Regions from separate parts of the Homo sapiens genome. Here regions 1 and 3 are each linked to region 2. The links come from fine-mapping of genetic effects on gene expression. A gene starts in region 2. Each other region holds a variant in brackets. All regions are shown on one strand. Distances are between the middles of the regions. Region 1 overlaps AASDH (aminoadipate-semialdehyde dehydrogenase). Region 2 holds the start of AASDH (aminoadipate-semialdehyde dehydrogenase). Region 3 overlaps CRACD (capping protein inhibiting regulator of actin dynamics).

The links.
Region 1: its variant is fine-mapped to the expression of AASDH in kidney cortex (GTEx, PIP 0.91).
Region 3: its variant is fine-mapped to the expression of AASDH in whole blood (TOPMed, PIP above 0.99).

Annotation. Positions count from the first base shown.
Region 1 is chr4:56,346,426-56,349,277 of GRCh38, reverse strand. It overlaps AASDH (aminoadipate-semialdehyde dehydrogenase), which reads left to right. Exons shown (of 15, transcript NM_181806.4): 11 at 1-15. Among named protein-coding and RNA genes, the nearest start is that of AASDH, 40 kb to the left of the region's middle. The variant C/T (reference allele first, on the strand shown) is at 1,586.
Region 2 is chr4:56,386,144-56,388,995 of GRCh38, reverse strand. AASDH (aminoadipate-semialdehyde dehydrogenase) reads left to right here and starts at 1,505. Exons shown (of 15, transcript NM_181806.4): 1 at 1,505-1,634. RefSeq lists enhancers at 1,161-1,210, 1,073-1,579, 1,241-1,610, 1,580-2,087.
Region 3 is chr4:56,327,395-56,329,894 of GRCh38, reverse strand. It overlaps CRACD (capping protein inhibiting regulator of actin dynamics), which reads right to left. Exons shown (of 11, transcript NM_001393381.1): 11 at 1-2,251. The coding sequence ends at 2,091. Among named protein-coding and RNA genes, the nearest start is that of AASDH, 59 kb to the left of the region's middle. The variant G/C (reference allele first, on the strand shown) is at 1,536.

The DNA of each region.
Region 1 (2,852 bases), 40 kb after region 2:
ACTTTATTGTGGTGGGTAAGTTTTTGAATTTGAGGTTTGTGGAGTTAAATTGAATTACCATACAATAATCTTCATAGGCCCAAGTTAAATTTTTTAAAAATCTAAATATGATGGGTTTGGTTGCTGTCCAAAAATTATAGTTAACCCTGTGCTGATTAATATTGTGGGCCTTGGGGTCAAGAGTCCCTGGATTTGAACCTACCTGTATAGCTATTATGAACTCTGTGACCTTTGGCAAGTTACTGAACCTCTTAGAATTTCACTTTCCTTGTGGGTAAAATGGGAATAATAATAAAATGTGTTGCTGTATCACAAATACCCCAAAACTCAACAACCTAGAACAACACAAATTTATTGTCTCATAGTTTCTATGGGTCAGCAATTCAGGAGCAGCTTAGCTGGCAGTTCTGGCTCAGGGCTTTCACGTGGCTATAGCCATCTGAAAGCTTGACTTGGGTTGGAAAATCTGCCAAGGTAGCTCATTTACATCACTATTAGCAGAAAGCCTCAGTTCTTTGCTGATTCTGGCAGGAAGCTTCAATTCTTGCCACATACGCCTCTCTCTAGGCTGCTTGACTGCCCTTACAACATGGCAGCTAACATTCCTCAGAGTGATCCAGGAGACAGCAAGTAAAGAGGAACAGAGTACCTTTTATGACCTAGCGTTCCAAGTTCCATACCATCATTTTTTGTTTTCTTCTGTTAATTAGAAGGGCATAACTCAGCCAGGCGCGGTGGCTCACAGCTGTAATATCAGCACTTTGAGAGGCCAAGGTGGACAGATCGCTTGTGCCCAGGAGTTCGAGACCAGCCTGGGTAACATGCAGAAACTCTGTCACTACAAAAAATACAAACATTAGCTAGGCATGGTAGTACATGCCTGTAGTCCCAGCTACTTGGATGGCTGAGATGGGAGGATCACTAGAGCCCAGTAGGTTGAGGCTGCTGTGAGTGGTGATTGTGCCACTGTACTCTGGTCTGAGCAAGCAGAGCAGGACTCTGTCTCAAAAAAAAAAAAAGTGCATAACTCAGTTCAGGCCACATTCAAGGGGAAGAGAATTAGGCTCCACCTCTTGAAAGGAAGTACATCAAAGAATTCATGTACTTTTTTTTTTTTTCTTTTTTTTGAGATGGAGTCTGGCTCTGTTTCCCAGGCTGGAGTGCAGTGGCGCGATCTTGGTTCACTACAACCTCCACCTCCCGGGTTCAAGTGATTCTCCTGCCTCAGCCCCCTGAGTAGCTGGTATTACAGGCACATACCACCACACCCAGCTAATTTTTGTATTTTTTGTAGAGATGGGGTTTCACCATGTTGGTCAGGCTGGTATTGAACTCCTGACCTTGTGATCCACCTGCCTCGGTGTCCCAAAGTGCTGGGATTACAGGTGTGAGCCACTGCACCCGGCCTCCTGGACATATTTTAAAACACTAGAATCTTTTATCAAGCTTTTGGGAGGATTAAATGAGATAACTGTTTATGAATCAATTGGTGCATTGCTAGGGACGTGCCACCACACCTGGCTAATGTTTGTAATTTTTGTAGAGACAGAGCTTCTGCGTGTTGTCCAGGCTGGTCTCAAACTCC[C/T]GGGCTCAAGCGATCTGCCCACCTCAGCCTCCCAAAGTGCTGAGATTACAGGCGTGAGCCACCATGTCTGGCCTGGTGAGCATTTTTTCATAAGTGCTCATTAAGGGTTAGCTACTAACTGCTGCTTAGTTTCATTAAGGTATAGGTGACTTTTACTCTATTAGGAATATGGGGGTCCTGGGTATAATATCTCCCCCTGACTACAACTCTCTTTTTACTCTCCCAAGTATGTTAGGTTTCATTTTATACGCTCATGGAATCTTCATCAAAGCTTTTCAAACTAAAGGCTTAGGAATAGCTTTCCCTACTTGTGCTATCCTAGCAGCAATCTACTTGAATCTGAATGTGATTCTTCCCTTCTTCCCCTTTAAACAACGGCATTTTGAAAATTATACTACAGAACACTTTCAGTAATACACCTGAATGATAAGAAACTGCTGAATTGTTTCCCAAAGTGATAAAGTGTTTTGCATTTCCACCATCAATGTGTGAAAAGTCCAGTTGCACCACATTTTTGCTAGTACTTGGTATTGTCAGCTTTAACTTTTTTTTTGTTATAGCCGTTGAAATAATCATGAGTGGAATTTTATTGTGGTTTTAATTTGCCTTTCCCTAGTGACCAGTGATGTTGAGCATCTTTTTTTTTTTTTTTAAGACAGCGTCTTGCTCTGTCACCCAGGCTGGAGTGCAGTGGCGTCATCATGGCTTACTACACCCTCGAACTCCTGGGCTCAGGTGATGCTCCCACCTCAGCTTCTGGAGTAGCTGGGACTACAGATACACCACCACACCTGGCTAATGTTTGTAATTTTTGTAGAGACAGAGCTTCTGTGTGTTGTCCACGCTGGTCTCAAACTCCTGGGCTCAAGCGATCTGCCCACCTCAGCCTCCCAAAGTGCTGGGATTACAGACGTGAGCCACCATGTCTGACGAGCACCTTTTCAAAACCTCATTTGCTCTCTGTGTATCTTTTGTGAAGTGTCTATTGAAATCTTTTTCCCATTTTTAAGTTTTTTAAATTGAGTTTTAAGAATTGTTTTATGTATTCTGAATATAAATCATTTATCAGATATATGTTTTGCATGTTTTCTCTCAGTCTGGGGCTTGTGTTTTATTCTTTTAGCGTAGTGACATAGTGTCTTTTGAAGAGGAGTCCTTTATTTTGATGAAGTCCAATTTAATTTTTTTAATGGGTCATGCTTTTGGTGTCATCTTAGCAATCTTTGCCTAACCCAAGGTCAAAAAGATTTTCTTTTGTATTGTCTTT
Region 2 (2,852 bases):
CCCACTTACATATGAGCAGATAAGGACCACCAGACATCCTAGGAAAGCCTCTAATGTGAAAGATAGAGCACAAAATCAACAGAAGAAAAAAAAAGGAAACTTGAGGGAAATAGATACTGCAAGGGAAGAAAAACTTTAAAAAAGGTATCATTAATATCAGAGAGTTGGATGATGATACTGGAATAATAAAACATCATTTTGGCAGCAATTCAGAGTCAATCAGAGGCAAACAAAACTGAAAACGTTTTAGGAAAAAGCTGACCAAGAAGACCTGAACTAAAGTAGCAGTAATGGCGATGAACATGACACTTAAAAAACGCAGGTTCTAGGCCCCTCACTAGAAAACTAGGGGATGAACCTCCGGGGATGGAGTCCAGGAATTTGGAATCTTCTAAAACATCACCACCGGCAATTCTGATGTAGCCAGCTGGGTGCTGGTCTCAAGACTGAGAACTAGAGGACATAGGGTCTAATCGGATGTAAGAGGTTAAGAAAGTGGGAAGGTTGATAACTGTCTGGCTGGGTGGATGATGGTGTCATCCCAACGTAGAAACATAGAAACATAGACAAGATACACTTTTGCCCACTTCCAACCTAAATACATAAATAAGGCTGTGTTAGTTTGAGTAGTCCATGGTACATCTTGGAAAAGTATAGTTGGCATGTGGAGATATTTTTTGCTTAGATTAGAAGCACAGTTTCTTGTCACCAACAACTACGGCTGCGAGAGCGTCCTATGCTTTTTTCTCACGTACTGTTTTGATGCAGAGCTGTCTTCGCAGTCCCTCCCCCGGCTAAAACCCCCCAAACAAAAAAATCCCGATTATTCTGCCACCAGACAGTAGCTTTAAAACACCTCTGTTATTGCCCTTGACGCTTATTGTAATAATTGACATGTCTCCAACTGTAACAATTCCCTTGGAAACAGAAAGTTCTATTCAGGCATATAGTTTACAAAACTCCACCTCGGACCTGCTTTAATTTCTTTACAGGTCCTACTAAATGCTCCTGTCAAATTCCTTAGTTATCGTTTCAATCTGCTTCCCAATTAAAATGTCAGCATCATGATGACAGGAACGTCGTTTGCAGGCGTCACTGCTGCAGCCATATCTCCAGCACGTTTCCAGAAAATGTCATTGGTTGAAAGCAATAACTCTCCTATTTCACAATGATTTCATCTCTCTTCACATCAACCCTAGGTGATGTTTTTATTCTCACCTTATGAACGAGAATACTGCGGCTCAAAATTCAAGAGTCTTGCCCAGAGTTTTTTGGCAAGTACGAAAGGGTTATGGCTCCAAACTGGTTAGCTCCGAAGTCCTTGCAAACCCTGTCCGAGACCATGCGCGACCCCAAGGAGCGCCTGAGCAGATAACCAAAAGTGAAAAAGCCTATAGACCTCTTCACTCAAGTTAGCGCCTCGGCTTCAGGAGAGGCAGCGCCAGCTCCACGCAGCCGGCCCGGGGTCGCTCGCACTGACGTCACGTAGCGACGCGGAAGATTTACGTATGGTGCCTCGCTCTGGGATAGCTTTACGGCTTCTGGGAGCTGCTGCTTCGCTGTGAGAAGTATCCGCGACGAGCTATCCGGGAAAGGGCCGAATGCGATCAAACCTAATCCGCGAGACTTGCTAAGTGAGTCGCGGCAGGGCGCGGTGTCCGGCGGGGGTCTGTGTGAAGGAGGCGAAGTGCCGCTAGGCCTGAGCCTGCTTCCACATACATTTGCTCAGCTTCAGGACCACTGCCTGACCTCGGATTTGATACATCGGGGTCTGGCGTGCTGGTGTGGTGCAGACTAACCCTGACCTGTGTGTACACTCCTGCGTCACTAGCCTCCGCCCCTCCATTCAAATGGAAATAAGTGTGCTCCGCGCTCAGCTACCCCCTAGAGTGGTTTCGAAGAGCAATGAAGAAATGTTTAGGAAGCTGTAAATTGCATTGTTACTCGTTGCATACCGTAAATTTAGAAGCCGGGGAATTGGGAAAATAAAGTTTCTAGATTATTTATCCATTTTTAAAACAGCCAGTGGCCTAGAGAGAGGCCCCATAGCAATTGAATTTGCTGACACTCTTAAGATCTTTGTTGACTAAATAGCAGCTTCTACAGTTGTAGCAAGTAAATTTATTCCTTTTACATGTAAAATCTGCTTACCAGAGTTTGCTTTTTTTTTTCCTTTTTTTTTTTTTTTTTTTTTTTGAGACGGAGTCTCGCTCTGTCGCCCAGGCCGGACTGCGGACTGCAGTGGCGCAATCTCGGCTCACTGCAAGCTCCGCTTCCCGGGTTGACGCCATTCTCCTGCCTCAGCCTCCCGAGTAGCTGGGACTACAGGCGCCCGCCACCGCGCCCGGCTAATTTTTTGTATTTTTAGTAGAGACGGGGTTTCACCTTGTTAGCCAGGATGGTCTCGATCTCCTGACCTCATGATCCACCCGCCTCGGCCTCCCAAAGTGCTGGGATTACAGGCGTGAGCCACCGCGCCCGGCCTTTTTTTCCTTTTTAAGGTCTCAAACATTTGGGCATTAATAAGTTTAGTATTCTCTACTGCAGAGAATGTTATTTGTGATTCAATGAATGAAAATGAAAACCTGAGACAAGAAGAATGGATTTTACCTTAAATGTCTGTAGCAACCATTGGGAAAATGGAAAGAAACATCTTAATTATCGTATAGATGTGTAGGTACCCTTCTGCGCTACCTGTATGTTGCGAAATGAACTCATTCCTCATAATTTAAGCGCCTGCTGCAGAAAGCCTCCCTTATATTTACATAATGATCATTGTATGTCTGAGGAAAGCTTAAAATTGTATCTTGTGCATTAAAAAGAGCTAATATTTATAGAAATGCCTACTAAAA
Region 3 (2,500 bases), 59 kb after region 2:
ATCCCAGCCAATACAAAGTTGACACATCTACAACTTTTTGTAACTGATCTTAGTTCCCCACCTGTTCCCTGCCATAATTGGGATATTGTCCAAAGCTGACAGGATGAAAGAAAAAGTCAATTCAGAAGAATTACTGTAGCATTATCATTCCAGGGCTGTAGGTGGAAAGATTCCCATTAAAAAGTGTTATATTAGTGAGGAAATCATTGGAACTAACAAATGCCTACATATAAGATTTAGAAATGAACATTAGTATGGAAGACGTGCAGTGAAATACTAATTGCTTGCCATAGCAATAAAAAAAGGTTACATTGATTTTTAACAGTCTGAAGGTCCAGTATATATGATATTAAATCCAACTTGCAAGAGTACAACTATCCACTTGACCACACATGCCAGCTGCTACAGTGAGGCTGAGCTATTGTTTCTAGAAAGAAAATGGTTTCTACATGGTAAATAACTTTGCCATCATCCTTTATTTAAGGTACATGGTAGAATAACAGCACATTGCATATTGAGCGAGCATAAAGGAAAGTAATGATGGATACTTAATAAAGCATGTTTTTGTAGGAGAGGAAAAAGGATGTAATTCCCTCTGCACAGAGCAAAGGATGTGTACCTATATTTCGGAGTAAGAATCTAAGAAAAGGGGAATATGCCAACACTATGAAATATAAGGTTAGCACCAGCAATATGTGAGTTTGCCAGTATGTCTGTTTCATGTAAATTTAGGGCAATAAAAGTGAATATATGTGGCTTTTAAACTGCCAAGTCCCTTCTTTGTATGCACATGTGTATGATGATAAAAAGGCCACTTAAAACTCAGATGTTTTTTAAAGGTAGCAAGGTGAATGCTCAAAATTAGAAATGCTACTGGACATGTGACTCTAAATATGAATTACTCAATTATAGTAAAGAAAAGACTTTCTGCAGGAAGTCCTTATTACAAAGGCTCCAAATCTTGGCTTCCTGTTTATTTTCCCTAAAGACCAAAGGGAATTTTCAAACATGTAATGTCAATAACCTGTTGCTTCTTGTAATAAATGGCTGGCTTGGGGGGTTGTTTTATTATTTTTCCTGTCTCACTGTTGCTTTTTGAGTGAATGAGCCTCCCCTTCGAAGTCTGAAAAATTAGATTGCATTAGGATCAGTGTTTCTCACAGTTCTTAACCTTTGGGATCTATCAGAACTGACCTGAAGAGTTTTTGCCAGAATACATATTCCTGGCCCAGTCCCCACAGGCTCTGATTGAGTAGGCCCTAGGAGGGAGCCTACACATCATAAGAACTACTGCCCTAGATGGAGATTCTCAGAGACAGAAAGTGAACTTGTAGCTCTGATCTAGAATTGTCTTTCTTCACTACATTAAATTAAAATGTTCCCTGGGAGCCAACTGGGCCAAATGCTTCACATGTCCTTAAGGAGGGTATTGGAATAACAGGGCCCCACACTATGAATCCACAGTGCGGTAAAAATGTGAATGGATGTGCCTTCTGGGTTACAGCTTCAGAGTGGGGAAAACTCATGAAAACTAA[G/C]ATGGGCACAGTTGGGTGCCAGAATGTTCCTTGTGATTCCCAATTACTCACTGCATTCAGGAGAATGGGTGTTCTTGCTTTTAGCTAGATATGATCCTTTCACCATTACTGTAGAAAGGATAAACATTCCCAGACATATGGTAGAGTAAATGTTTTGGACAAAGAAAATTAGTGCATAGAATCAAAAAACCATTACCAAAGGTTGGCAAAAGTACATGTTCTGAATGGTGTGTGGGTGGGTGTGTGTGCAAGGCCATGAAATGGGCATGGCAGGCTCTCACGAGTTCTTAGCTTAGAGATTTTGCTTCATGTGGTCCTGTGGACGGAATTTTCTCTTGAGAACTAGGAGGAGCTCGAGGCACCAGGACCTAGGGTTGTGCAAATCCACTCTTTACAATGAACACCACCAGTTCAGTTTCTAAACATTATTTTGGAGCCTATAAAACATGCTTCTTTTCCCTAGCTTGATTTCTTTACCCCATATAAAAAATAAATAAATAAAAAGGGCAAGAGAGGAGCCAATAACTGGCAGTAGGGATGGGTGAGAGTCACTCTTTACTTAATAATCTGTGGACAGTCGCTCCAAGCCTTTGCTTTCCTTTTGGCCAAAGCCAGCCAGGCTGGTTCTGTTGACACGGGGGCAGCATCCGGGGTGGAAAACCTCTTGGTGACTTCTTTTACCAGCGGCGCTGGGGGAGCCGAGTCGGAGATCTCCACTGGATTTTGTTTTGAAGGAAAAGGAAAAAGTAAGTTCACAGCCACACTACAAATTTTCTTTTTAATTAACAGATGATAAACTATGTATTTATCATGACAAACTGTATTTGTCATGTACAACATTGTTTTGAAATATGTATACATTGTGAAATAGCTAAATCTAACTAATTAAAATATACAAAACCTCACAGTTATCATTTTTATGGTGAGAGCATTTAAAATCTACTCTCTTAGGTCTCTTGAACTTA